Regions from separate parts of the Homo sapiens genome. Here region 1 is linked to region 2. The links come from fine-mapping of genetic effects on plasma protein levels. A gene starts in region 2. The other region holds a variant in brackets. All regions are shown on one strand. Distances are between the middles of the regions.

Region 1 (15,851 bases), 340 kb before region 2:
TAAAGAAAAAAATTGTCTGGAAAATTCCCTAGAAAACAAGGGAATCATGAAATTTTGAGAACTTAAATTTAAATCTTTTTCCTATTGGTAAAAGACTTTAGAGGGAAGGAGAAGAGGAGGAAACTAAAGAAACACTAGAAAATGCTGAGTATACTCTATGGGACACAGAAAGAGAGTAAACAATCTATCCCTCTTTCCCAAAAGCTTCTCACAGAAAAATGATAAGATTTTGCCTCCTTACAGAAAGTGAAGTTTGTAAAGATTGTGAAGGTTTTGCAAAGGTCTTGAAACTGTCACTTGGATTGTTAAAAGTCCAGCTAGGTGATAAGCATATGATTTCAGAGTCCAGTTTCATGGTTCTTCCAGCCAGACAATTAATCCTAGGGTCTTCGAGGGCTTGAAAGGCCAGCAACATCTGCCAGTTACCGCTCTTTTGCCACACAATAAAGACCCCGTTACCAGTGAACCACTAATAAGAAGGGAACCTGAGGTAGAACTTTTCAAGGGAGCAATAAAATTTTTCTGTGAGTAGCTTTTGGGAAAGAGGGATACGTTGTTTACTCTCTTTCTGTGTCCCATAGAGTATAGTCAGCATTTTCTAGTGTTTCTTTAGTTTCCTCCTCTTCTCCTTCTCTCTAAAGTCTTTTACCAATAGGAAAAAGATTTAAATTTAAGTTCTCAAAATTTCATGATTCATTCTTAGTAAGGAGATTTCCCTAAAGAGCAGGATGGGCTCAGTGAAGTATAATTTTAATTGGGACATTTTTCCTTAAAATATATATAATTCTGAGCATTTCAGAGTAAAGAGAATTATCATGGGAAAGAAATCTCTATCATGATCTCTTAAAAGTATTTGTAAGGGGGAGGGGGGAGGGACAGCATTAGAAGATATACCTAATGTTAAATGACGAGTTAATGGGTGCAGCACACCAACATGGCACGTGTATACATATGTCACAAACCTGCACGTTGTGCACATGTACCCTGAAACTTAAAGTATAATAAAAAAACAATTTGTAAGGGTGCCAGCTTCTTACAGCACTGAATATTTTACTTCAATAATCATAAAACTGATTTTTGTTTTTTATTCCCTTTTCTCTTTTTCTAGGCTACCTAGTAGAGATATGGAGAGATGGTTATAATGTAACAAATAAGAGTCAGAGGGGCTGAAAATACCTGAACTACTCCAAATAGTTAAATGTTGGACAATATTGGGTTAGGAAAGTTAGCATTTATGTTCTTAGGTTGAAGTCAATTGCTTGGTGATATTTGCTCAATTTTATATTTTGTTTTGTTTTTCACTTTCAGAAATCAGCAAGGCTGCTTCTGAAATGCTTACCAACAACTGTAAGTTAAGGACCTTTTAATTATAAATTTGATGGACTCACAGGTATTTTCTCATTATTTTTCTATTAAAAATACTTGAAATATGTCATGTGGAAATCCCATAACACGCTTTCCGAATTACTAGATATACCAGATATTGACTTAGAATTTCTCTTTGAAAAACACTGGTCTATTAATTTTAACATTTATTAAAAAATATATAAAAAGTTAAATGAAAATTGATTCCAAATAATAAAACTGTGAGTGAAAAATATCATATTTGAATATGTTAAAATGAGAAAGATTGAAGGAAATGACAATTTAGGATAAGAAGAAAATATAAAACCAGGCTATATAAAATATATTTATTAAAGATAAAAACAGTTCTGCATCTTAAAAATTATTATTATTTTTTGCTTTAGAGGTGGGATGTTGCTATGTTGTGTGGGCTGGAGTGCAATTCACAGGTGCAATTACAGTGGACTATAGCCTGGAACTCTTGGGCTCAAGCAGTCCTCCTGCCTCAGCCTCCCAAGTAGCTGGGCCTATAGGAGCATATCGCTGTCCTGTTACATCTTTTAAATAAATTCTCTTTAGAGTATCATGTTTTCCACAAGATACATTTATGCATTCATTCACTCCATGGATATTTATGGAGTATCTTTTGTTCACATGGTGTCTTACAGACAGCAGTGCATATACTATGCAAGATGTAGACACCAATGAGGCAAAGCTCCTCCTTCAAGAATCTGCTTAGAGAGACAAGAGTTATAACACATAGACACAACAAAAAATAGTGGTTGAAAGATGCTTGAGACTGGAAAAGAGGATAAGTAAGAACCACTCAAACCAAGATAGAATACAGAAACATCACAGGAGTATCTTGTAGGAAAGAAACGTCATCAATTAGGAGAAGTTGAATAATCACTGAAAGGTTTCAAGTAATTTTTAATGATATATTTTTTTATAATGCGTAATCAAAGATACCTGCTCTCGTGTAAATAAATCCTTTCTCTAGGTTGTGGGAGACAAGTAGCCAACAGTATCATAACTGGCAACAAAATTGTGAATGGAAAAAGCTCCCTGGAGGGGGCATGGCCATGGCAGGCCAGCATGCAATGGAAAGGCCGTCACTACTGTGGAGCCTCTCTGATCAGCAGCAGGTGGCTATTATCTGCAGCTCACTGCTTTGCTAAGTAAGTTTGAAAATTTGACTAAATGAAGGATGCTAGGTGCAAAACTATTTTGGATAGTTTGTAGGGGTTAACTTAATGTGTCAAGGTTCACCAAGGCCATATGAAATTTACAATCACATAGAACATTTACAATCACCTGCGTAATTAAAGAGCAGGAAAGGAAATGCATTTAAATTAGAGAAAGGAGAGAAAAGCAAATAGAAGTATTAATTAACATTTTCCAAATAGGTACCTTGGCCTGACATTAAGTGCTTTACTTAACATCATTTCATTTAATCACAACATTCAATTCTGTATGGAAGGTATAGTTAAAACCATTTGAAGATGAGGAAACTAAGTCTCACTCAGGAAAGGTGACAAAACTTGGCTAAGATCACTCAGCTCTTTTTTTTTTTTTTTGAGATGGAGTCTCAATCTGTTGCCCAGGTTGGAGTGCAATGGTGCGATCTCAGCTCACTGCAAACTCTGCCTCCTGGGTTTAAGCGATTCTCCTGTCTCAGCCTCCTGAGTAGCTGGGATTACAGGCACGCACCACTATGTCCAGCTAATTCTTGTATTTTTAGTAGAGACGGGGTTTTACCATGTTAGTCAGGCTGGTCTCGAACTCCTGACCTTAAGTGATCCGCCTGCCTCAGCCTCCCAAAGTGCTGGGATTACAGGTGCGAGCCACCATGCCCAGCCTAGTTCTTAAATAATAGAAACTGAATGTGAATTCAAGTGTGTCTGACTCCAGTTACTAGGTGCTTCCTTGTCTTGCCATCCAGAAGTTTATAATCTAGTTGAGAAAATTTAAATGTCATATATTAAAAGTACGAGGCTGTATAGTATTGTAAACATGACACGTATTACAAAGATAGTAAGTACGATGGAAATTTGAAGAAAGACAGCATATCCATCTGACGTAAAATTTAATCTGGACCCAAAAATTGAGTATATCCAAAGGAAGATAAATTGTTCTACCAAAAAGCCATATGCACTTGTATGTACACCACAGCTCACAATAGCAAAAACATGAAATCAACCTAGATGCCCAGCAACGGTGAACTGGATAAAGAAAATATGGGTCATATACACCATGGAATACTATCCAGTCATAAAAAAGAATAAAATCATGGCCTTTGCAGGAACATGGATGCAGTTGCAGGCTATTATCCAAACTAAATGAATTAATGCTGGAACAGAAAACTAAATACCACATCTTCTTGCTTATAAGTGGGAGCTAAACACTGAGTACATATGGATACAAGGAGGGGAACAATAGACATTAGGGCCTACTTGAGGGTGGTAGAAGGGTGAGGGTAAAAAAAGTAGCTATTGAAACCAAGGGTATGTGGCAATAAGACTAATCCTGGACCCCATCCACTTACGGAATTGAGGACGCTCATGTGATTCCTGACCAAATTAAATGTTCAGAAACTGGATGGAACTGAATAAGCAGGGGAAAACATCAGTGACTCTACTTGAAAAGATCTTCAGAAAGCTGACAAATCTGAGTCCTTAGCATTATTTTTAAGTGACTGCAACATTTACAACAGCTCCATGTCAAAGATAGTTTTCAAAATAGAATTTCAGTGGTTTATAGTTTTGTTTGGGAACCTCATGCCTTAAAATTATGAGATAATCACCACTAAGAACAGTGTTGTGACCCAGCAACTGAGTGTATTCTAATTACATTGTGTCCTCTAGGAAAAATAATTCAAAAGATTGGACTGTCAACTTTGGAATTGTAGTAAATAAACCATATATGACACGGAAAGTCCAAAACATTATTTTTCATGAAAATTATAGCAGTCCTGGGCTTCATGATGATATTGCCCTTGTGCAGCTTGCTGAAGAAGTTTCTTTTACAGAGTACATTCGTAAGATTTGTCTTCCTGAAGCCAAAATGAAGCTCTCAGAAAATGACAATGTTGTAGTTACAGGTTGGGGAACACTTTATATGAATGGTAAGTTTTTTTGTAAAATCATAATAGCTGCATGGGAATAACTATTTAATCAATCAATCAATCAATCAATCAATCATCCCCTCATGCAATTAATCAATCAGTAAATATACTGAAAAGAAAACCAAGTGGTGGGACAAAAAGCATGATGTCAAATTGTCTTCACTTCCTAAAATATCTCTGGGAATGGGAATTGGAAAAATTGAAATTATGTGTTAGGCAGCCAACTATTACAAACACCTGAAAGAGACTAATCTAACCTGGGACTGGCCTGACTCTTGGTGACCAAGAGAGTCTGCTTTATGCTATAGGTAGATATTCTTTGTCCCAGCAAAGTCTAAGATCTGCATAATATGCAGCACTTATTGCTTTTAGGTTCATTTCCAGTGATACTTCAAGAAGACTTTTTGAAGATTATTGACAACAAAATTTGCAATGCCTCATATGCATACTCTGGCTTTGTGACTGATACAATGTTATGTGCTGGATTTATGTCAGGAGAAGCTGATGCATGTCAGGTATGTCTAGTTACATTATCCAGTTGTTTTCTCCCAGTTAATCAAATGGAAGTTTTTATCCACATAAAATTTTTTTTGTGTTAATAATACTGACATAGTAGCTTTGTATTTCAATACACTAAAAATGTATTAATTCCATTTATGTACCAGACACTAGCCTACATGCTAGGGACGTGGAGGTGAACACAATCCTGCCCTCACGAAGTTTTCAATCTGGGAATTCATACAAAGAATAACACTTAGAAGAAGTTTACAAGATGAATTTTGTCCTATTTTCTGGGCAACCTGCAGACCTAGAATGTTGTCTTCTCTTTATCCAGAGATGCATCAGGAGTCTGGGCACATGCCTATGCCACTTGTTCCTCAGAGGCTTCATCATAGAGACTTAAGCTCAGTGCAAGCAGCTAAGTCACCTTCTCCATATTCAAGCTGCACTCATTATATAAGTCAAACTCTGGTTTGCTCAAGTCAACATTTGGCAGTTTTAGGCCATATATTCTGGTTTGTAGCTGTCTTGTGTTTTAAAAAAAAGTCCTAAGGGTTTCAGAGTTCTAAGCCCAAAGAGAGTGAATTGGTTTCAGTGCCCAGGAGGTACAGATAACTCCACAGGAGAGGTAAAAGGAAATTTTTTGTTAAGACAAGAAACATTTTTTTCTTTTCTTCTTCTAGAATGATTCTGGTGGACCACTAGCTTACCCTGATTCCAGAAATATCTGGCATCTTGTTGGAATAGTAAGCTGGGGTGATGGATGTGGTAAAAAGAATAAGCCAGGTGTCTATACTCGAGTGACTTCTTATCGCAATTGGATTACATCCAAGACTGGACTCTGAAAAAAAAGGAATTATACAAAGGAACATAAAGACCACTGTAGGCTATCCTTATCTGTGGCTTTGGGATCTTTTTATTTTGATTGTTGGTAAACTAATCATTTTATTATATATAAAAATATAAATGTCTTTATTAATATTTTATTATATCTAAAACACTGTCCATGCATTTATTAATCTTTTAAATTAATGTAAGAGATAGGAAGAGGCCAGGTGTAGTGGCTCATGCCTGTAATCCTAGCACTTTGAGAGGCCGAGATAGGCGGATTGCTTGAGCCCAGGAGTTTGAGGGCAGCCTGGGAAACATGGCTAAATCCGTGTTCAAAAAATACAAAAATTAGCTAGGCATGGTGGCGTGCACCTATAGTCCCAGCTATTCAGGAGGCTGAGGTGGGAGGATTGCTTGAGCCCAGCAGGTTGAGGCTGTGGTGATTTGTGATTGCGCCACCACTGCACTCCAGCCTGGGCAACAGAGTGAGACCCTGTCTCAAAAAAAAAAAAAAAAAAAGGAGAGAAGAAAATAAAGAAGGCTAATATATAATTTTTCTTAATAGCTGAGTTGTGATTCATTTTACCATTATATTCAGAATTGACCTTAATTTGTTTTCCAGAATCAAAAGAAAATAAAATATAAATTTTGAAACTATGAGAACATATATAGGGGATTTATCAAATGAGTTACTTTTTATTATATCAATTATAATTTCATTTTATTAACTGGAATAAGTGCGAAAGTGTACATTACTTTTTAACTTATATGTGAAATGATTCATGTACCTCACAAAATCATGCAATCTTGCAGTGAAGAAGGAGTATCAGAGCTCCAGCTACACTGAGTCTTTCAATTTACAGATCAAGAAACTGAAGACCAGAGAAGAGAAATGATTTGGTTAAAGTCACTCTCCATCATCTGTGATAAGTTGACAAATTTATCCTTACACAAATTTGTCCTCATTGAGTTGACATCCAAAATTTGTCAGGAATTAAAGAATGACTTTTGAGTGGCAATTATTTATATAACATTTTCCATTGTCTTCATATTCACCTTTTGTCATTTGTTTGCTTTCT[C/T]TTGCAGCAAAAATAATATGAGGTCATCAAGGGCAGAGAACTGTGTGGCATCTCCTTATAGTAAAAGTGCAATCATATGGATGGCTAACTTTGTAATCTCTACAAATAATTTACCTTATGTAATTTTCCAAATGTAAAAGTCACCAAAAACTTAAAGGCATTAAAATAAACTAAAAAAGTACTCATTTCTTCATTTGTTTGTGGAGCTACTCTTTTATTCTTTATTATAAAGTATGGCTCAAATGATATGCATATTGACATCAAGCAAATCTATAACCATCTGTGACAAGATGGTGTCTTTCTCTCCTCACTTCTGTTTCAGGCCAGCCACATGTATTTATTGAGTCCCTAGTGTGTTTCAGGAAATGTCAGGTATAGATACAATGTCTTCCTTCAAGGATACCACATTTAGTGAATAAAGATAGGCAGTAAACACATAAATAAGATAATTTTGGATTACGATAAATGTTATAAAGGAAATAAAAAGTAATGTGATAGAAAATGATGGAGCAGATAAGCTATAATTTAGATTGGGAAGTCTGAATGACATCTCTGAGGGGGTAGCCATTTGAGCTGTACCTAAAGGATGAAAAGCCAAAACATGGAAAACATATGAAAGAAAAGATATCCAAAGGGAACAAGTATGAGATCCAGAGAGAGAGAGAAAAGTGAGGTGGATATGTGCAGCAGAAAGAAGGCCAATGTGATTGAAACCCCATGGATAAATGAGAGATGGTAGGGGAGAAGATGGAGGAGGTAGATGGGGGCCAAGTCAAGTACCGCTTGGTAAGCCATGGTAAAGACCTTGAATTTTCATTCTAACTGCAATGGGAGGCCCAGGAGTTTTCCAAGCAAAGGGAGTGAGATAATCTAATATGCACTTTGAAAAGATTACATAACTTTGATGAAGAGAATGGGCTGGAGTGGGGGTGAAGAGCACAGAATGCAGGCAGACTGGTTAGAAAGCTACTGCAGCTGTCCTAGTAAGAAATGAACACATATTCATCCTTTTCCTTGGGCTAGGAATATGCCTTGGTAGGATAACAGAAGACATCCTTTTATAGTGCAACCCAAAGTAGAACAAAGTTTAATATTACTAAGAGGTCAAAGGTATTGCAGGCTGTATAATGATTTCCTTGTCTTATAGATAGTTAATTCAGAAGTCAGATGTTTACAAGCATTTAATTTATCCCCGACATCATGAGTTGAATCACAGTCTGTCCCTTGCTTCTTCCAGAGGGAAAACAAATGGAACTGAATGAGTAATAACCCCAATATGGAAGAAAGAGGAAAGTGATTGGAAGGAAAGGGTGGACAGGAATTTGGAGGAGGATGGGAGATTGGTGGAGGAAGAGAATTTGTGAGACTAAGGGGTCCATGAGAAAGAAATGAAGCGTGAAGATTTCTCAAGATTGAGGCTTCCTGGTTGAACAAGGAGGGATATGATAGCATGAGTGGCCAATCTCCAGGCTTGGTGTGGAGGTAAGGAGCAGGTGGGGCAAGTTGCATAAGGTAAAGCAGTTATTATTCAGCCAAAGGTGGATTCTTTATGGGGTGCAATAGTAGCCTTTACTTCAGTCTTAACAACTTAGAATCTTCACTTTCATATGGACTGTATGTGTGACGGATCAGCTAAAAGTAAGTGTTTTTTTTTCTTTTTGGTAGTAATAGACTGCGCCATCCTGGCCTTCTGATGTTAACAGCACATTGAGAAGTTCACACAAAGAATTAGAGGTCTGCCTTGAGAAATAAAACCAACAACACTAATCACAATGCATGAAAATTAAAATGCTAAATTGACAAAAGTATCATTATTTGCATTACAAAATTAGTCACCATTTTATTAAAAAGTAAAAGATTTTCTCAAATAAAATGCTTTTACTACTCATAAGTGGTATGGAAAAGAAACCAGAGATGAATGATTAAGGAGATATTTTACGCTCCCCCCATTCCCCAGCTAAGCAGAACAAAACAAAACAAAACAAAATAAAACAAAGAACAACTTAGACTAATTTAATTATTTCTTCCTGTTTTTAAGTAGGGGAAGTTGAAGTCCATTTTGAAGGAGTCCATTGAGCAAGAATTTGAGAAAGAGCATACCATTACTGACTAGCGGGACCACAGCTATTAATAAATGTCCATATGTTCTTGAGAAACATAAAAAATTATGTGTTTGAAATATGAAACTGTTTGTGATATAAGATAGGGATATAGTCTTGTGCACTATGAAGCATAAGCCAAGATCTTTTTGTGAATGTAGTGCTAATTAAAATGGCATTTTTTTAAAGATTGAAAAAAAAATTAATGCCATATATGATAGCACAAAGTTGACAAGGTTGTTCCCTCCTTCTTGTGAAGCCTCCAATTAACCAACCAGTTTAGGCTTTAATAAGGAATTTTTGAAAGTGACTTCCTTGTTCAAGGATTGTGTCTACTCTAGAAACATCTCCAACTTATCAGTGTATGAGAACTCTTTTTTAACTCATAAGGCAGTATTTTGTTATGCAACACAGACTTTCATATTAATGCTTTCAAAGAATGTTTTCACTGAAAATGAATCAGAAAAGAAGAGACGAAGTGATGAAAAGTATCTAAAAATGTTTTTAGGTTTATTTTTAAAAATTTGGTCTTAGAGGCAGGGTGCGGTGGCTCACACCTGTAACCCCAGCACTTTGGGAGGCCAAGGCAGGCGGATCACGATGTCAGGAGAACGAGACCATCCTGGCTAACACAGTGAAAACCCCGTCTCCCCTAAAAAATACAAAAAATTAGCCAGGTGTGGTGGCGGGCGCCTGTAGTCCCAGCTACTCGGGTGGCTGAGGCAGGAGAATGGCGTGAACCCCGGAGGCGGAGCTTGCAGTGAGCCGAGATCGCGTCACTGCACTCCAGCCAGAGCGAGATTCCATCTCAAAAAAAAATAAAAAATAAAAATTTGGTCTTAGATATTGGTCTAATGGCTCAAAGCCTGCTAGAAGCTGTTTTCCATTGACTGGAATTTTTATTTTTATTTTTTGGCATACCTGAAAATATCTTCATGTTCTCCTCATTGAGCTTGTCATTTGCCATTTGTTATGACTTAAATACTGTGATCAGTCATGACATCTACACTCACTGCCCCTGCCCCTATCTCCCCATTCACTATCTAGCCCGGCAAAACCACAAACACGGTTCAGTCCAACTCTTCAACTTTTTAGTGCATGTACCATAGTTGTTGACTGTAGCTGGAGAAAAACACACATCATGCTGGCTACTCTTTAAAATCTTAGTCATGAACCTCAGTTATATCCTTAATGCTCTTTGAAAATCCCTTTGCACTTCCTTAGCCAAAACTCCCTCTTATTCTCCTAAATAACTCATTCACTTCTCTCCTGCTCTTAACTCCAACACTGTCTTTTTCTCCTCCTTACACTCACCTGATGATCATGCTCATTGTTTCACCAAGAAAACAAGAGGAACCAGATGAGAGTTTCTACTGGCACTTATCATAAAAATCTACAAATCTACTTGCTTCTCAAAGGGCAGTATAGGTAACTGAACTTGAGCTAAACAGCCTTTGTGCAAACGCTGGTTTGCCATGTACAAGATGGGTGACTTTGGGCAAATTATTTAAAATCACTATGCCTCAGTTTCTTTGATGTGATATGGGGATAAGAATGATATCTACTTCATGGTGTTGTTTTGGAGTATTCAAGGAGTTAAAAGTAATGTACTTAGAACACATAGCAAATGCAAGATAGATGTTAGCTGTTATTGTCATCTATCCTCCTTTTTCTTACAATGGATTAACTGTTTGTACACCACTCTAAGGCCAAACTCTCCCCTTGTGCTAAGAACCCATCTGTACTCACCTTCTCAAAGATTTTATTTCTATAACTGTTGCCCATCCCTGTTTATGTCATCAATTTTCCCCTCTATACTGGATCATTTCCATAGACACAGTAACTTCTGCAATATCTTCCAGATAAAAACATACTTATTTTTTAACCCTACATCTTCTCCTGCTATGTTTCTTTGTGAAACTAGTTCAAAGTGCTGTCCTTACCTCCTTTCCATTCATTCCCTCTCAAACTCACTCCAAATATTGACTCAGATGTTCCTCCAAAACTGCATTAGTCATGGTCACCAATGAGTTTCGTGTTGCCATTCCAATGCTCAATTCTCAATTCTTCCTTTAATTAATCTATCAATAACATTTAGCATTGTTGATCATTTTTTATGGAAACACTTTCTTTATCTGGCTTCCAGAAAAAAAAAAACATCTTTTATGGAAATCTTTCTATGTCATTAGCAATTTCTTCTCAGTTTTTCTGCTGGATCTTCCACATCTTTCCCAACTTTAGATGTTGGACTGTCCCAGAGCTCAGGCTCATATCTCTCCTCTTCTCTACTTATACTCATACCCTAAGTGATCTTATCCAGTTCGATGACTTTCTTTTTTTCTTTTTGAGACAGAGTTTCACTCTTGTTGCCCAGGCTGGAATGCAATGGTGTGATCTTGGCTCACTGCAACCTCTGCCTCCTGGGTTCAAGCAATTCTCGTGCCTCAGCCTCCTGAGTAGCTGGGATTACAGGTGCCTGCCACTATGCCCGGCTAATTTTTTGTTTTTCTTGTAGAGACAGGATTTCACCATGTTGGCTAGGCTGGTCTTGAACTCCTGACCTCAGGTGATCCACCCACCTCAGCTTCCCAAAGTGCTGGGATTACAAGCATGAGCCACCACACATGCCAGTTCAATGGCTTTCAATACCAACTCTCTGCCTCCACTTCCAAGTGTTTTAATTGTAGCTTTAGAAGTCACTGTTTTGCCATCTCCCTGAACCTTCAGTGGCATATCTCTAAAATTTCCATGTGAAAATCTAATAGGCAGTTTCTATTAGTATGTCAAAATAGAATTGTTCATCTTTTCTCAGTCTTCTACATTTCAAAAGCATGGACGTGGAATCATCCTGAGTAACAAATATTTGAAATATTATTTTTTGTTAATTTCATTATTGGATTTTGCATAGGATAGAGTTAATATACAGCTGGACTGGGAAAACTCTATCCTTTTCTTTGGGAATGCTTTTCTTTGGGAAAAAAGTTGCTTAGCTTTGGCTCTTGGCCAAAATAAGTCCAGTGAGATTTATGTGAGGTTTAAAGTCTGAAACTCTCCTAGCAACCTCTGGGCCATTTTGTTTTACTGACCCAAGATCCTACTGAGAACTTCTGCCTTGAGTGTTCATGAAGTTGAGATTCATCACACTGATTTTGGTGGTTCAATCTGGAGACAAAATGTGTGTATGTATGAATAAGGACCATGGGGCATTTGCACCTCTATATCTCTTGGCTCCCCTAATACTTGCCTATACTCTTTCTCTTGCTGCTTTGCTTTCTTTACTTATTTTTACATTTTTAATTGATATATAATTGTTTCTACATATTTTGGGAGTACATGTGCTATTTTGATACATGTGTACAATGTATAATTATCATATACTTTACTTTTAAATAAAAGCTTTATATGAGTACTCTGTGTAGAGTTTTATAAGTCCTTTCAAAAATTCAAACTTGTGAAGTATTTGCAAATTTTAATAATTAAAGTGAAGCAATGATGTGCTGAATTTGGCTTGCAGCAATGTACAAGAACTGAGTGTTAAAACTTCAAGAATCATATGAGCCAGAGTGAAACAGCGATAGTTAAAAATTAAAGGCAGTAAATACTCAAAATGCATTATGTCTTCATTATTTTACATTTTGTTAGTATTCATGGTCTTGAGATTATTTGCATATGTTGTGTCTATATGATGGTGATATATAATAGAATGCTACTGCTCATCCTTGCCTAAATTCATAGTTAGTGATGTCATGTACATAGCTTGAAATTGACCATGATGTATTTACACTGTGGAAATTGGCAAACGTTTTTAATTAGCTCCCACCCACTGGTATCAAGACCTCGTTGTTAGACACTAACCCCACACCACTGAATGTAATTATTTCTCATTTATATTTTTGAAAGAAATCTTCACTAGATGATGCAACTGGAGCACAATTTCTGTGCCATAACATTACAAACTAGCTTTTGGCCATTGTGCCAGATGTGTTGTTAAATGCCCTAAGTACTGCCTGCTACTGATGGTGGTGAATAAAGTTTCTTATTGGTTTTTATTTTTCGTAATTTCAATGCAGGAAAAAGTTTCAGAAGAATCTGTTTTTGAAACATTTCATGATGATATGTGTTAAGGGCATTTCAGACTTACAGTTCATAGTGAATAATGGATTTCAAAATAATCCAATTATATTAGAATATGTTGTTGTCCTGCATAATTATGATGCTTAATTGTGAAAATTAAATAATTATATTAACTTTATTTTTAAATTTTATTTTATTTTACTTTATTTTATTTTTTGAGATGGAGCTTTGCTTTTTTTGACCGGGCTGGAGTGCAATGGTGCAATCTCGTCTCACTGCAACTTCCACCTCCCAAGTTCAAGTGATTCTCCTGTCTCAGCCTTTAGAGTAGCTGGGATTACTGGTGCGTGCCACCATGCCCGGCTAATTTTGTATTTTTAGTAGAAACAGGGTTTCACTATGTTGGCCAGGCTGGTCTCGAACTCCTGACCTCAGGTGATCCACCTGCCTCGGCTTCCCAAAGTGCTGGGATCACAGGCATGAGTGAGCCACTGCACTCGGCCAATATATTATACTTTCTTGTGTTGTTGCCTTAAAAATTAATTATCTTCATTTAAAATTTGTCACAATAGACACTCATGGTTGAGTAAACAAAACTTTATTTTCACTAAATATAGGAATACATGTTATACAAGAATCCATTAAATAACCACCTCAGGTTTTATAAATTTAGATTTATGCTCTTTAAGTCAGATTTATCTCATCTGCTAAAGACAACATTCAATGAGACAGAAATCACTAACCAGAGTAATGAGAGAGCATTCCCACATTACCTTTCCCAGGCATTTGATTAAAAAAAGAGAAGATTTTAAAAAATCAAACCAAGCCGTCATCAGAGAAGGTAACTTAAGAGCCAGAGAGGTACTATGTTGTAAATTAATCTGGCATTTTTGTTTTAAAAGAAAATGTGAATTCTGAATTGTTAGTCCTCCTACCTATCCTTAATGTACTATAATGGCATTCTTCAAGAACAAGCATCTTAATGATCATGGAGAATTAGTCTGGCAGCACCTCTATCTCCTGCTTAAACTCCTACTCCTCCCCTTACCTCCCTATCTCACCACGCTTAAGGAATAAAACCCATATTCTTTATTATGACTTGCAAATCCATAAAAAGCTTGACTTACTCTTCCTATTCATTATTCAAAACACAGTTCAGGTGTCACTCCCACCAGGTAGCCTTCCCTTACATCCCCAGGATGGTGGCTCCAGGTTGCCCCAGGTTTACACCTGTCACTACACTTTCCACAGGTGTAAAAATTATGCATCTGAATCTCCTACTAGACTGTGAGCCCCTCAAGGACTCTTTTTCATCTCTGTGGTCCTGGACTGGTGGCTGGCTTCATGGAGGTAGTCATGGTGTCCAGCTGAACAAAAATGAGATGTACTATCAGGATCTGGCTGCTACATGCTTCTTTTTTATGTCCTATCATGTCCTTGCATGTAGCCTATGTTTCAACCACTCAATAAGTTGGGATTTCTAGAACATGCTATTATGTGTCTTTCCAAGTGGTGTACTCCAAGTCTGGGATGCCCTTCTCTGACATTTTTTTCCCTGATATATTCTTAGAATGCTGTAAAAACTGGCTCACACTTTTTGTGAGACTTTTTATCCACTGTATTCTCATAGATTGTGTGCCTACTGTTTTAAGACACCATCTCAGTCCGGAAAGTTTCACAAAGTCAACAAATACAGTTTGTTTTTAGTTTACATTAATTTTGTCCTGACACCCCCAAAAGCTAAATTTTATTGCTAATTCTATCTTTTTTCCCTACTCAGATCCATATAAAGGATAAGCTTTTATTTCAATTCAACAAGTATTCTTAATTGCTTTTTAATTACATATGGAATATATGAATACATTATATTTGTGAAGAAAATGAACCCACTATAGATCAGGCTAATATTTTTTCCAATCATCATTTCCAATTCTTGTCTCTTTCCTTCTCTGAGGTAATTCTTATTTTGCGAATCCTTCCAGATATTTTCATATATTTATTTATCTCTTTATAAACATGTACATGAATTTAAATACACTTATTAGCACCCATTAAAAATGTGCAGTTTTATTTAGTGTTTCTTTTCTTTTTAGTGGTATTATATTGAATTATATTCACTTAGTAAAATAACTATTGATTAGATTAAATAGTTCCATTTCGTATAAAGAATTTCTAAAACAGAACTGTTTCTTACTCTAAAACCTACCTCCCTCTGTAAATCAATTTCTGCAAAAGTATGTGCAGAGCCTCAGTGAGAATTTTTGGATTAAGCATGTTTCAAATGAGTACTGCTGTGGCAGAATAATTGTATCAAATAAAGACAATTTACATTTAAGTTATTTGTCAAAGACTGATCTGTTAGATACAGTCGGTTTTACTGGGAGGAGCTCTATGCCATGAAAGGATGGATGGAACTTGAGTCAGAACACTGACTCACCCATCTGTGGTGGTATTTTGGGGGTGGACCTCTCAGAACACCAATCCAAGTAATATCTATTGTTTTTTGTTTTTTGTTTTTTTTCTAAATATCCAACTCAAAGGGGATTTACATTTCTTCCTTTAAATCACAGATCCATAGCTGTCATCACACTTGTTAAACAAGTTTCCTTTTCATTGTTTTTTGCTATTTTACCCAGCCCTTAAAATCTCAACTATCATTGCGGTTAGCACATTTACCAGAGAAGCACTGATCAGGACAAAAGAAGTGCAGAACTTTTCTTTATATTTATTTACTTCAACAGCCATTATATCAGCACATTATGTATAGGTAAGTTGAGATTTGCTTGCCTAAAGTTCTGA
Region 2 (15,851 bases):
CTTTATCTTGAAGAAGGATCTGAAGGATATCTCCATGTCTGCTATAAGAGTGAATTTTGTAACAGCTGAAACACAGTTGCAGTATGCAGAAAGCAGTGACGTTTTATTTACTCACTGAATAATTCAAAAATTATTCAAATAAATTATTTGAGTAATTTATATAAATTATTTAAATTATTAAATGAATGATTAACCCCATGCCACATAGGGATGACAGGCTCTGAGAACATAGCAATCCTTTCTTTTGTGGACTCTATTGTCTACTGTGTAGACAAATTTCAAAAAAGTGTGCTGAGGCCAGGCACAGTGGCTCACTTCTATAATCCCAGCACTTTGGGAGGCCAAGGCAGGAGGATTGCTTGAGGCCAAAAGTTTAAGACCAACTTAGGCAATATAGCAAGACCCCATCTCTACCAAAAATTAAAATATTAGCTGAGCATGGTTGTGCACACCTGTAGTCCCAGCTACTAGGGAGGCCAAGGTGGGAAGATTGCTTGAGCCCAGGAGTTCAAGGCTACAGTGAGACACAATCATGCCAATGCACTCCTGCATAGGCAACGGAGTGAGACCCTGTCTCAAAATAAAATAAAATAAAAAAGTATACTGAGTGTTGTAATGAGTATAAGAGGAGAAGTAAACTGATGTTGGATCACACTGCAGAGGAACCAACCTACCCAAAGAGAAAAAGCCTACAAGTAGGCCTTAGTGATCATTCTGATTTCGGAACTAAGAAAAAAAATTATTGAAAGAGGTAGGAAAAGATAATCCAAGCTAAAGGAACAGAACTGGAAGGGATAGAGAGACAGCATATTAAAGTAACTAAAAGAAATTCAATGGATAGAGTGTAGAGTATCAGAGGTATGGTGGGAATAAGCATGAAAGGTGGGCAAGGGCCAGATACTACAGAGCGTTGCCACCCATGTTAAGGAGAACAGATTCTATCTTAAGTGTACGGGAAGCTATTGAAGAGTTTTTAAAAGAATAGTAACATAATTCAATTTGTAATCATCATTCTTGCAGCTGAGTAAACCAGAGTGGGAAAAGGATTAGAGGCAGAAGGGCTAATCAGAAGGCTGTGACAGTAATCAAGCTAATGATTACAGTGGCCTGGAGTCATGTGGTGGCAGTGAGGATGAGAGGGAAAGAAATTGGTTCAATAAATATTTATGTATATAGGGCACCAAGAAAAGAGATACAGTCAAGGATGACACCTTAGTTTGTTAGGTTTCTGGGATTCAAAACTGGGTGAATGGGAGTGGACTTGTGGAAATAGGGAATACTGGAGAAACAGGTTTAGAAAAACGAAAGAAGAAGACGTGAATACAGAGCACAATGAAAAGATTAGGCTCCCAAGGGATGAGAAAACCTCTTCTGCTAAAACAGGAAGAATATGGGCAGATGGGTACAGATCTGTAGACATGATAGCAGGAAGTGGAGGGAGTGTCCATCTGAAGGCTTCTCTTTTGTTTTTCCAATAGTAGAAAGGTAAGTCATCTGTTGAAAGCAAGTGCAGTGAATAAGGAATGGAAAATTCATACTGGGGAAGAGTAGAAAGATTTGAAATGGTTTTAATAAACCCTATGCTTGACATTGACCAGGGAAACCTAGCTGTATTGCTAGGCAGTATTGAAGGGCCAGCTAAGACCAATAGTCATAAATTTATAATGTAATAATTCTTAAAATAGATACTATGTAGTATCTATTTTAATACATAGTAGTATCTCTTTAATAACAGAGTTTATCAGCCAGACCCTCCAGTAGGTGAAATAATGTATGATGTTGCATACTAAATGTATTATATTTATGTGCTCTGATTGCTTTTCTCATTGTGGAGGAAAATTACAAGAGTAAAATTTGTGAATGCATGCAGGAAAGTGAAAATTACTCATCATATAAGAAAACAACTCTATGCAGCTCAAAGGGGACTGATGCAGAGAACTTAGGAGAGGGGTAAAGGATACACACTTCTTTCTTATTTTATTTTTTTTTTTCATTTCTTTTTTTTTTAATGTTTTTTTTTTATTATACTTTAAGTTTTAGGGTACATGTGCACATTGTGCAGGTTAGTTACATATGTATACATGTGCCATGCTGGTGCGCTGCACCCACTAACGTGTCATCTAGCATTAGGTATATCTCCCAATGCTATCCCTCCCCCCTCCCCCGACCCCACCACAGTCCCCAGAGTGTGATATTCCCCTTCCTGTGTCCATGTGATCTCATTGTTCAATTCCCACCTATGCGTGAGAATATGCGGTGTCTGGTTTTTTGTTCTTGCGATAGTTTACTGAGAATGATGGTTTCCAATTTCATCCATGTCCCTACAAAGGACATGAACTCATCATTTTTTATGGCTGCATAGTATTCCATGGTGTATATGTGCCACATTTTCTTAATCCAGTCTATCATTGTTGGACATTTGGGTTGGTTCCAAGTCTTTGCTATTGTGAATAATGCCGCAATAAACATACGTGTGCATGTGTCTTTATAGCAGCATGATTTATAGTCCTTTGGGTATATACCCAGTAATGGGATGGCTGGGTCAAATGGTATTTCTAGTTCTAGATCCCTGAGGAATCGCCACACTGACTTCCACAATGGTTGAACTAGTTTACAGTCCCACCAACAGTGTAAAAGTGTTCCTATTTCTCCACATCCTCTCCAGCACCTGTTTTTTCCTGACTTTTTAATGATTGCCATTCTAACTGGTGTGAGATGATATCTCATAGTGGTTTTGATTTGCATTTCTCTGATGGCCAGTGATGATGAGCATTTTTTCATGTGTCTTTTGGCTGCATAAATGTCTTCTTTTGAGAAGTGTCTGTTCATGTCCTTCGCCCACTTTTTGATGGGGTTGTTTGTTTTTTTCTTGTAAATTTGTTTGAGTTCATTGTAGATTCTGGATATTAGCCCTTTGTCAGATGAGTAGGTTGCGAAAATTTTCTCCCATGTTGTAGGTTGCCTGTTCACTCTGATGGTAGTTTCTTTTGCTGTGCAGAAGCTCTTTAGTTTAATTAGATCCCATTTGTCAATTTTGGCTTTTGTTGCCATTGCTTTTGGTGTTTTGGACATGAAGTCCTTGCCCACGCCTATGTCCTGAATGGTAATGCCTAGGTTTTCTTCTAGGGTTTTTATGGTTTTAGGTCTAACGTTTAAATCTTTAATCCATCTTGAATTGATTTTTGTATAAGGTGTAAGGAAGGGATCCAGTTTCAGCTTTCTACATATGGCTAGCCAGTTTTCCCAGCACCATTTATTAAATAGGGAATCCTTTCCCCATTGCTTGTTTTTCTCAGGTTTGTCAAAGATCAGATAGTTGTAGATATGCGGCATTATTTCTGAGGGCTCTGTTCTGTTCCATTGATCTATATCTCTGTTTTGGTACCAGTACCATGCATTGTCTCAGCCCAAAATCTCCTTAAGCTGATAAGCAACTTCAGCAAAGTCTCAGGATACAAAATCAATGTACAAAAATCACAAGCATTCTTATACACCAACAACAGACAAACAGAGAGCCAAATCATGAGTGAACTCCCATTCACAATTGCTTCAAAGAGAATAAAATACTTAGGAATCCAACTTACAAGGGACATAAAGGACCTCTTCAAGGAGAACTACAAACCACTGCTCAAGGAAATAAAAGAGGACACAAACAAATGGAAGAACATTCCATGCTCATGGGTAGGAAGAATCAATATCGTGAAAATGGCCATACTGCCCAAGGTAATTTACAGATTCAATGCCATCCCCATCAAGCTACCAATGACTTTCTTCACAGAATTGGAAAAAACTACTTTAAAGTTCATATGGAACCAAAAAAGAGCCCGCATCGCCAAGTCAATCCTAAGCCAAAAGAACAAAGCTGGAGGCATCACACTACCTGACTTCAAACTATACTACAAGGCTACAGTAACCACACTTCTTTCTTTAACAAGATTAAAGAATGCCTCTAGTCAAGATGTTTCTTTGGCCTCCTATGGTTAAGTGCAGGTAAAAAAAAATTACTTGTAGAAAACATAAGAAAATAACTGTCAACATGAAAGCCATCACAGGTTGTAATGAGTGTTGTATTTCTTAAACCATGTTTGTATGAATGCTTTAGGAATAAGACCAATTTGTAGAAGCAAAAGAACATGCCAATCTAAGCGGGGCGGGGGTGGGGGCAGTATTTTGGAAACATCCAGGACCAGTTTCAAATTGTATGAGCTCTCCCCTACACACACACACACAAACACACACACACACACACACACTGCCTTGGGAACAAGTACTCTACGAACTACTGAACATGACAAGTGCTTTACATTTATTAGTTCATTTGATTTGATTTGACTAAATGTAGTTTTTGCAACTCTATGAGAATGGTATTTTAACTCAATTTTTACATGTTAAAAAAACTCTCAGGCTTACAGAGATAAATAATTTTCCTGACCTTGCTGGGTAGTAAAGAGAAGAGTCAAGATTTTACTTAAAGTGTACTCTAACTCCAAGGAGAATACTGTTTCTACTACATCATGCCTTCTGAATAGACAAATGCCTTTGAAAAATGATAGAATGTACTTGTACCTTTGCCTCCAACTACCTGCATGTCATAAGCCACAAAATTATATTTAGCCACACTTGCAAAATCCAATTATTACCCAATTTTAAAATTTACATTTATAACAAATATAAATACTTGCATTTAAACAACATTTATAGCTTTCATATGGTGAGCACCTCCATTATCTTTTTTTTTTTTTTCTATTTTTACAGTAACTCTGTGAGGGAGGTCATGACGAATATATTGTCTACCATAGCCATATGACTGTGCTTTCCTGGACTTGACGACTAAACAAACTTCAAATTCAGAAAAACACTACTGGCCCACACCTTCTCAGGTCATCTGCTTTTTGGTTGTTTTTTTCTGCTAATATTGTTATGACGGTTACATTGAATGATTCATACTTCCTTCTAAACGAAGTGTGTTAATACACATTTGCAGGGAAATATGTCCAGAGTTTAAGATTTCATGGGTCTCTTAACCACACTCTCTCTCCATCAGCAGGCAAAAGAACCAATCTTAATAGTTCTTACATTGCATAGTTCATCTTCCAGAAATATAAATGATCTCTGCTATGTCCCTGAAAACTGTTCCTGTCATTCGTTCTCAGTCTAGCTGCCTTGGTTTTGTGACTGTTCAACCAGAAGAATAAAATCAGCCTGTAACCAGAAGGCAGAGGACTCTTATATTTTTTGTATAACGTGATTCTACATTTCTCATTCATGCAATCTCTTAAAAAGAGAATAGGTCAAGGCCTATCCTGCCACTCCCTGAGGATCTAAAGATGAAGAGTCAACATCTTTAAACTGGTCCCTGTTATGAACAATTCCTTTGCCTCACAAACCATAATTTCCTGCCCCACCTCCCTTTCTGCGTTGAGCTCATCATGCGGGAAGTCACTTTCAGACTGAATTCAATTTTCCCCATGCCTTTCCCCCGACTCATCCCCACGTTCTGTTGTGAATAGTAATAGGGCACTGGGATCTGCACTAATACGTTAATTATGAGACATCTAAACAACATATGATGAGTAAGTACCTACGTGGTAAAAAGGCCTTTGCTGCTGAGTATTCCAGGAAATAAAGACATACAAGAAAGAGCATGCATAATTAGAGAAAATTTCTGTAAGCAAAAAACAGAAAATAACACTTTAAATCCTAGTAAAAATTATTAAAACAAAAGTATAATTTTATAAGCCATTAAAATATTTAAATCACTTGGCTCAATAAGCCTCTTCAGTTTATTCTGAAGAAAAATTCAACTGTAGGATGACAAAGAAAAACTATGTTTGTGAAGGTGGTCATTCAAAGAATCATCTACAATAAAAAAATAGAAAATGTCTAAATACTTCACATTAGAAAATAACTTTGGTGCTTTATGATAAGTCCATTCAATGTAATGTGATTTACCTTTTAAAATGCAACCATTAAAACTGCTAATAATTAATGAATCTTGGTACCATATTTGTGTTTTAAATTATATAAAAATACAAAGTTATAAATATATAGCTACTAAAAATAAAAATTAGTAATAGCGATATATTTGTGAAATAATATTAAGTATAAAAAGCATAATACAAAATTATATACCATGATATAACTATATTTAAAGGTACTTGAAGTTAACATGTAAAATTTAAAAATGGTTTGTTTAGGTAACTTTATTTTTTAAACTTTTAAATCTTATTATAGTTATTTATTTATTGCTAAAAAATCAATGGCAGAATGTCAGGCATGAGATACTGTATGTAAAAAATATATTTCCCAAATATATTTGGGAAAAAACATATAAGTAACCACTTATTCCTGTCTCTGTTGTTTGATTTGCACATTATATAGAAAAAGTCAAGTAACTGAACACATCTGAAGTTGCAGTATTGGAGTAAATTTAACCATTAGTTGTCAGTGCTTTACAAGATGAAGTCATAGAATTTTATAATTGAGAGTCCTCTAAGACCTCCTGATTCAGCTTCCACTTTTCTTAGTAGATACATGTGACTTATGGAGAAATAAGTAAATTTTTTCCCTTAAGCTACACAATTAGTTGGTGAAAAAGCTAAGACTAGAATTCATATTGTACTACTAATAATATTGTAATAATTCTATTACAAGTTCCAATTCTTTAGCATTCATTAGTTCTCACAAAGTAACCCCAGTATAACCTTCCAAATTTATATCCTGCTTCTTTGCAATGTTAGACAGGAATGCCCTTTTTCCCCTCCCTGCTAGTCTTGCCTGTTTTCTTGAGCTCTCCATCCTTACCCTAACACCCTACACACTCATACTGTCTTCTTCTGTCTGCTCCTCTTCTAGTAGTAGTGTGTTAGAATAGCTTTTTCAAATGATCATATTTGGAAAAAAACAAAGTGGATTTTAGTTCCAACTATTCTGTTTGCTTGTCTTACTTTGTGCATCTACTCAATTATGCTCTGTTTCATATATTATGAGAAAAACTGCATTTAATCATACAGATGAGGGAATTCAGAGGTAGTGCCCATTAATGTACGGAAAGTATGTTCTGATGGATCTTGGCTGGCTGTGTTGAGGAATGAGGTGTATAACAATATGATAACATGAGCAAAATAAGTGTCAAATCCTCTTGAACTAAAAGTGACTCTACAGTTGTGAAGTAGTCACAGGCTTTCACAAAATACCTGTCAATTGTAATTGTGTTTAATCTCAATTTACCAGAATAAATAAATTTCTTACTAATTTGTGAAATTCCCTGTCTATTTCCAATTATCTTCCACAAGTCATACTATTGGTTTGTTGATTCCCTCAAACTTGTTTAACAAGTTAGATTTTAATTAACATGAGATTTCCTCCTTTGTCCTCAACTATAGATCACACGTAATACATGAGAGTCATTCATTTGAGTGGGAATCTCAAAGCAGTTGAGTAGGCAGAAAAAAGAACCTCTTCATTAAGGATTAAAATGTATAGGTAAGTCCTGTTTTTGTCTTTGTAGCTTTAAAAGTTTTACTATATCTTACAGTATGGGAAAAATATAAAGAAGCTTAGCAAATTTTGACTGTGTCTAGCAATCTTCTAGTTACTTCTCTGAAAACTTCATCGAAACTCTTAGATATTGTTTAGATAATATGCTTGATATTATTTTCATAAGGTACATAGTTGCTTAACTGAATTTTTTATAAAACAACCACAAAAATACTTAGCTTAGCGTTATGACAACATATCTTTAAATAAGGAAGTGGTTTTGTTTCTCATGTGCAACATTTCGAAAAGTGGTGTGTGGATTTTAAAATTGCAATCAGTAAACAATTCTTGTGTTGTTTGGAACTTTTCGAGGATTCTGTGTTTTGACTTCCATTACAGTTTTATTGCTAGCTATTAAATAAATATGCCATAAATCCTAAAGTACACTTTTAGAAAGTAAAGACGGTATTTTTCTACTTTTTATATAGTTGTAGAATTATTTTCAAGAAAGTTCTTGCTAACATTTAAGAGAAAATAATCTCTCTCTGGTTTTCTTTTTAGTTAATGAATAAGTATTTTCCTATACTTTCACATAAAGAAAGAAAAAAGTTGTGAGATAATCAAGTCACACGTTAACATCTCAAAACAATGAAATAATTATGTAACTTGGTATGTTTATGTGTGCACTTAAGTGTATATATTATGCATATTATTTTTCTATGACTACAGGAAAACATGATACTGATAAGTCATGCTGAAAGGATCAACAAAAGCATGAACAATGTGTTAGCTATAATAAGTGCAGCTGAATTTATTTTAAATCTCCTGAACATTGGAAAATTCAATCAAAAGTCAAACCATTTTAAGTAATAAAAATATATATACAGTTATATGCACTTGAATATATATATATGAGTGAAAAGTGGATAGCTGTCTAAGCTTCCAATGATAGAAGAAATAAAATCATTTCATATTCATGTAATAGATACAAGAAATGTATTAAAGTAGCTTAAAAACCTATGAAGTAATTTACATACTGAGTTTGTTCTTATTTTATGTGAAAAAAACAAATCACAAAATTGTATTTACTCATCAACTACTACTTTGTAAAGCTATACATGGGAGAAAGTCTAATAAAGAACATAGAACATTAATCAGGTTTGTTATACTAAAGCAGTGAGTTTATGAATTATATTTTTTATTGTTCTTAAACCATCTATAAGTGTAATATTATTTGGGTAATATAGTGCATTTTAAAATGTATTTTGCTGAAATATTTTAATTTTAAAGAAATTACTCTGATTTTAAAATATTGCCCTTATAAGCAGTCAAGTGTATATCAAAACATCATTCAATGGAAAATAATAAAAGAAGACATGTAAATGATACAAATCCTGAAAGAGTTGTACAATTTCAGAAGGCTTTGAATCAATCAAATTTCTAAGTTGATCCATCATTGTACAGGAAATTTGACACTCAATCAGAGCCAACCTTGCCAATTACAAATAACTCTTCTGTGGAATTTTGGTTTCTAAGGATCACACTTTTTGGAATATTTTATCTCTTTAATAGCCTGTATCTACTACTAATAAATAGCAGCTAGGTATTCATATCAAATAACAGAAGGAAAATTAAATTGTACAATATACTTTTTTTAGGTAATTGTAGGTAATTTTGGCATAATTTTAGATAAATCTTCAGGTAATTCTGAAATACTTTTGGTTGAAAATTGGCTGCCTTGGATGGTTTGATTGCTTTTTTTATAAAAAATTAAACTCCCAGCTCTCTTCCATGCTGCTGCAAGATGAAATGCTCCTTTCTTTATCTACCTTCTTCCCTTGTCTGAAGAAGGAAATCCTACCGTAGGGCCCAGGAACCTGAACAGCTGTGTTACTCATTTCAGATCCTTGGTCACTCTAGATTTTCTCAGGTTCACCAAGGGAATATCTGTGCCCACCAGATTACAGAAAACGTGTGAGATGAGGTTTGGGAAATAGGATAAAGATTTATAAACTGGAATTTGGAATGTAGTTTATGGAAAGATTTAAGGTAAATGAGCATATCTCAGCTCAGGGACAGACAAGTCTTAGCAGGACTCCTCCTACCAAACAAATCTTGTTTCCATTTTCTTCCCTTTTGTCTGTGCTCAAGACATGATTAACTGACTGCAGAGACATGCCAAAGACAATCAGATGCCCTGCCTCCCAACAGTCCAAAAGAACCTGAGACAAAAGTTGGCGGGGGGACGAGCCATCGCTGTCAAAAACGCATTCCAAATCCTGCCTGTTGTTTCAATCCTGGTTTTTGAACTGCTATAGGAACTCAGAAAAACATGCTTAAAATTGTAAATCATTAGGCAAAGAACATATTTCTTCATAGAAATTAGGCAGGTGGACACCAATTTGTATTTACAGTCATGAAGCCCAAAATAGTGCATTTCTAGTACAAGTTGTTGCCTATAAAATCTTGAGCCACATGCTAAAACAGCTGCTGCATTTGGCCCAAATGTTTTTCTAATGATGGTGTGGGACGGGCCTGCATACAGGAAGATCAGCTGCAGTCAGTCATCTGGGATTATATATTTTCTAGCAAATTATCCCATGCCACTGCCAACTTGTCTTCCAGAAGGCACTCCCAATCTATTTTCTCAGTAATTCATTGCTTACTTAACACACTACTGCAACTCCCAAATTGCTATGACTGGCACCCCTAAAATAAGTCATAAGGAAGGGATTCATTCAATATTTACTGCTGTAAGGGAACCTACAGTTATCCAATCCAATTTCTTAAAAGGTATTGCTCCCATTTGAAGGATCCCATTCTTTTGAGCAAAGAAGACTTGGCATGATTTCACAGTTTTGGGGAGTATTCCTTCTCTAGCTTTAGTATATGCTCATGACATGTAAAACAAAAGCACCATCCCAAATCTAAAGTCATTAATTGGATAACTGCCTAAGATAGTTGTAAATAAAAATGGACTTTGGAAAAGTTTATACTGATGAGTCATTCAGCAGAAAGAAAAAGCAGATTCTATGGAATATTTACAATATCCATTTGCCAGAGGTTTGAACAAGCGTATCAATGATTAATAAAATAATATATGCACTCAGGGCTCAAGACAGTGGAGCAATAAGTCATTGATGGGCATGGTGGTACAAGTATTCCCTGTATTCCCTGAAGGCCGAGGTAGGAGGATCACTTGGATCCAGAAGTTCAGTGTTGCAGTGAGCTATGATCATGCCACTGCACTCCAGCTGGGGTGACAGAGCAAAAACCTGTCTCAAAAAAAAAGATTAAAAATTATAAATAAATAAAAGCCACCGAGTATATTTTTCCTAAACTAGACAAGTTTTTATTCTGACAAGTTTACTTCTTAGCCAAGATATCTACCTGAATTTAATAGTGCAAGAATAAATTAAGATGTAATGTTTCCTTCTCTACTGAATATTTGTCAGCATAAAGACACGCCATACTATCCCCAATTAAAAAAAAATCCCTCCCTTGACCCATATCTCCTGTCCAGCTATTGTGTCATTTCTCATCTCCTGCTCTTAAAAGCAAAACTATTCTAAAGATCTGTCTAAACCTATTGCCTCTATTTTTATTTTCTTCCTCCATTCTCTCCTTTTGCTTTTTAATTTTTTATTATTAAACACATCACATTTAAAGTCTAATTTTAAAAAGTGAACCTCTTGGTACGAGACATCTATTAATAAAAATAGCATCACCAGTATCTTAGAAGACCCCATGGGCACCTCCTGTCTACGAACTGACCTTTCCCCACCTTTCACAATGTAACTGTTACGTGGCATGGTATCTTAATTTCTTTCATTTTCTTCATGGTTTCACCATTCACGGATATATTCCTAAAAAACTTATGGTTTAATTCTACCTGCCTTTGAAAGTCATATAAATGAGATCAATATTATATATGTTATATACAATAAAGTGTGCATAGCTTATTCATGTTCATAGCTGTATAATATTTCTTTGTAAGCCTGACCCATAACTTAAATATCGACTTTTCTAGTATATTGCCATTACAGATAATGTAGCACTGAATAGTCTTACACGGGTCCAATGGTACAAACATGCAAGAGTTTCTCTTGGATATGTTCCTAGAAATAGATTTTCCGAGTCACATGGTATATGCATTTTTATCTTTAATCTATCCTCCCTTTTCCCAGTGCAAATAGTTTCTGATCTTCACAGCTCTGAAATAGCTCTTGTCTTGCTCCAAATTGCAAAATCCAGTGGTCAGATCTCAGTGAGTTTACATAATCACTCCACCAGAGACCATTCTTTTCTTGAAACGTGATCTTCACAAAGCTTCCAAAACACCATTCTTTCCTGGTTTTTTGCTTATCCCATGGGTCAAACTTTCTCAGTTTCTGTTACTAGATTCTACTAATTTTCCTGTCCCCAGAGTTTAAGTGCTTTTCTTTTTTTTTTTTTTTTTTGAGAAGGAGTCTCGCTCTGTCGCCCAGGCTGGAGTGCAGTGGCCTTATCTGCAAGCTCTGCCTCCCGGGTTCATGCCATTCTCCTTCTTCAGCCTGCCGAGTAGCTGGGTCTACAGGCGCCTACCACTGCGCCCGGCTAATTTTTTGTATTTTTAGTAGAGATGGGGTTTCACTGTGTTAGCCAGGATGGTCTCGATCTCCTGACCTCGTGATCCGCCAGCCTCAGCCTCCCAAAGTGTTGGGATTACAGGCGTGAGCCACTGCGCCCAGCCTTAAATGTTTTTCTTCTTCTTACATTCTGTGTGATTCCACCAGTCTCATGGTTTGCAATATTACATAAGCTAATGATTCCCTAGGACATTAGGGAATGTCCCTAATGTCCCTTAAGTCCACTGTCATTCACTGGAAAACACAAAATGCTCTTACTTCAAAGCAACTTTTAATATCATATGGCAAAATAAACCATTTGAATCCTAAATATCCTAGTGCTTTATTTCTACTTATACATCTTTTATGATATATATAATTACTCCATATATGTTTTTTGAGACAGAGTCTCCCTCTCTCCCCAAGGCTGGAGTGCAGTGGTGCAATCTCGGCTCACTGCGACCTCTGCCTCCTGGGTTCAAGTGATTCTCCTGCCTTAGCCTCCTGAGTGTAGCTGGAATTACAGGCACGTGCCACCACGCCCAGCCAATTTTTGTATTTTTAGTAGAGACGGGGTTTCACCATGTTGGTCAGGCTGGTCTCAAACTCCTGACCTCATGATCTGCCCACCTCGGCCTCCCAAAGTGCTGGGATTACAGGTGTGAGCCACTGTGCCTGGCCAATTACTCCTTATATTATACTTTATTCATTCATTCATTCATTGAGTGTCTAATTTGAGTGAAGAGCTGTTAGGTGCTAGATATACAGCACTGGAACAAAAAGGCCCAGACCTTTTTCTCATGGTGCTTGCTGGGAAGACAGACACTAAAATACATTAGACAAATACCTATCTAATTATAGTTGTGGTGCTATGAAGAAAAGTTTAAGGACTTTGGGTAATCAAGATAAATGGAAACAACCATCACTGAAAACATTTACTCTGTGGAAATCTCAGTAGAGCAAAAGGTAGTCTTTACTGAAAACTACAAACCTTCCAATCCAAAAGACAACTGTTCCAGTGATTAACATGGAAATATGTAATTTCATTATGATTTGTTTAATACGATGACACTGAAATAAGTATTATAATAGTGAAAACTAAACCAGTCTAGAAGCTCATGGAAGACTTCTCTGAGGAAGCATTGTTTAAGCAGAAACTTAAAGGCAGGCAAGAAACAGATCATGCTGGTTTTTGAAGACTATATTAAGAATCTGGCATTACATCCTCAAACACAAAATTGTTAAAGACATAGCAGGGCAGAGATGTTACTACATTAGAATTTTTTTCTTTATAAATTACCCCGTTTTCATTTTTTATTATACTTTAAGTTCTGGGGTACATGTGCAGAATGTGCAGGTTTGTTACATAGGTATACATGTGCCATGATGGTTTTTAAAAGATGATTCTAGCTTCATATAGAGAACAATCTCTGTGGAGAAAGGAGATATCTTTTGATGAAGGGAGACTAGTTGGAGCCTAGTTCAGTATTTCAGGAAAAGGATAAACGTGGCTTGGATAAAGTGGTGGGACTTGCAATACAACTTGAGATATGTCTAAGAAGTCGAAAGAACCAGATTTGACATTCAACTGGATGTGAGGGATGAGAGAGGTGTCAAGTATAATTTTCAGGTTTTTCACATGAGTAACTTGGTGAATTTTGGCATCATTTACTGAGAAAGAAAATGCCAGAAAAGGGCCTATTTGACGGGGCAAAGGAAGGTTGTGAGAATCAGAAAGAAGATGATCAATTCAGCTTTGCAAATGCTGAATTCTAAGCACTGAATAGAGATATGTGAAAGATACAGCTGGATATTGTAGTCTGAAAATCACGTACAGATCAATGTTTCTCAGGCGTAATTTTTGGTTTATCTCTCTCTGAATCCCCCAGGCTACTTGTATAAAATGCAGAACTCTGAGATGCAAGACCAGACCTACTGAAATAGTCTGGGTGGGTACTGGATTCAGTACAGGAATTTGCACTTTTCCAAGTCTTCAAGTAATTCTTACGCACACAAAAATTTGAGAACCATTGGCTTAGATGGTAATTGAAACTGACTGAATGAGATCAACTAGAGAAAGGAGAACACCCAGGACAGAGCATGGAGCAACACCAGACACTTAGGTTGACTAGAGGAGATGCAATTAGCAAAAGATTTAAAAAAAAATTTTTTTAATTATAGAATATTTTAAAGATATAACGAAGTACAGAGCACAATAGAATGAATCCTCATACCTATCGCCCGTTTCAAGTTACCACACCTCAGCAGCCAGTCTTGTTTCCTCCGTCACCTACCCACACCCAAAAGATATTTAGAGAACAGATGGGGTCAGAAAGAAAAAGAGTATGGAATTATGGAAATCAAAAGAAAAAGAGTGTTTCAATAAAAAGGGATATTCAAGGGTGGGAAATGCTGCTAAGGGGGCTATGTAATATCCTTCTTCAGTAAGACATGAGTACTTCAAGGGAAGGACAATTATTTGGCAATTAAAAAAATGTCCTAAGTGCTTGGCAGAATATTGCAATAAGTATTCAATAGCTATTAGTTTTTCCAACATTCATTCAATAAGCACTGTATCTATAGAGCACCCACCATGTCTTGGGTTGCAAAAAACAATAAGGCTTCAGAAAAAAAGCACAGACAAAAAAGTCAAGAGGTCTAAATGCTGGCCCCTCTGTGGTACCACTTAATCTCACTGCAGATCACTTTATTTATCTGCATAATAGCAAAGTCAGAGTGGATATTTTTGAAACTCTCTTCCATTGCTAACATGCTATGATTCCACAAAATGCTGTCAATCTTATAAAATGTTATTATAAAAATATATCATGTCGTACACCTTGAATATGTAAAATTGTATTTGTCAATTAAATATTTTAAAATAAAAATAAAATGTATATATTCTATTGTATGTTAAAAATATATATTATTTTTAGCCAAAGTTAGGTTCTACATATAGAAAGACTACCAAATTTACAATTTATTGAACATACAACAGAATCTAAGTACTTTATAAACAGTATCTCATTTAATCTTCAAAACCCTCTGAGGCATGTGACTATCTCCATTTTATGAATGAGGAAACTAAGGTTCAGAGAGGTTTTGTTACTTCCCAGTGATCACATGGATCTGTCTGATTATAAAACTCATGGTTATTACTATTGTAATATATTACCTTTCTGCATTGCCTGTGTAGTAATTAAAAACACAGGCCCCTGGACAGGACTAGTGTTTCATAATAATCTTTATATAAAAAGAGAAGAAAGAGAGTAAACAAGTACATTTGTTCAGGAGACAGAAAGAAATCTCTTTTTTATGTGACTCTTTGTGCCAGTATTAGATTCCATGGCAAGATTCACAAGGTAGACAGAGCCTACCTTCCATCATCTAACCTATCCTTTTACTGTACAGATTCACTTAATGAACAGATCATTAAATACTTTGGGAGATACAGCAGAAAACAAATCAGTCAGTGCTTGCTTTCATTTATTTGATTTACCAACCACTGACATAGGGCCAAATGCCAGACATTATTTGAGTTGTGTTAACAAGTTTTTAATTCACTGGACTCATAACAAGGAGGTGGGTACTACTGTCACTTCCGTTTTGCAAACAAGGAAATTGAGGAGTTAGGTGACTTCCCAGGTTCACACAGCAAATAAATGGCAGAAATGGGATTTGAACCCAATTAGTCCAGTCTCAGGGTCTGTGCTCTCAGCTGCGCTGTCTCTCTCACGGAACAGTTTATTTGTAGGGACGGGTTGC

Alleles and levels. Alleles are on the strand shown, and positions count from the first base shown. The strength of an association depends on the size of the effect and on how common the allele is.
As copies of C replace T in region 1, the plasma level of the protein whose gene starts at base 7,409 in region 2 goes up (moderate association).

The links. A credible set is the group of variants that fine-mapping cannot tell apart. PIP is the chance, under the fine-mapping model, that this variant and not a neighbour inherited with it causes the effect. Protein levels are from antibody-based Olink assays in UK Biobank. Linkage for the fine-mapping came from a reference panel and not from the study's own genotypes, which makes the PIPs less certain.
Region 1: its variant is the best candidate, but not a certain one, in a credible set for the plasma level of the TMPRSS11D protein (UK Biobank, PIP 0.68).

What each region holds. Positions count from the first base shown.
Region 1 is chr4:68,217,874-68,233,724 of GRCh38, reverse strand. TMPRSS11B (transmembrane serine protease 11B) reads left to right here. Exons shown (of 10, transcript NM_182502.3): 6 at 1,309-1,347; 7 at 2,345-2,522; 8 at 4,209-4,468; 9 at 4,841-4,983; 10 at 5,653-7,072. The coding sequence ends at 5,814. It also overlaps the pseudogene TMPRSS11BNL. Among named protein-coding and RNA genes, the nearest start is that of TMPRSS11B, 20 kb to the left of the region's middle. The variant C/T (reference allele first, on the strand shown) is at 6,880.
Region 2 is chr4:67,875,560-67,891,410 of GRCh38, reverse strand. It overlaps TMPRSS11D (transmembrane serine protease 11D), which reads left to right and starts at 7,409. Exons shown (of 10, transcript NM_004262.3): 1 at 7,409-7,485. The coding sequence starts at 7,478.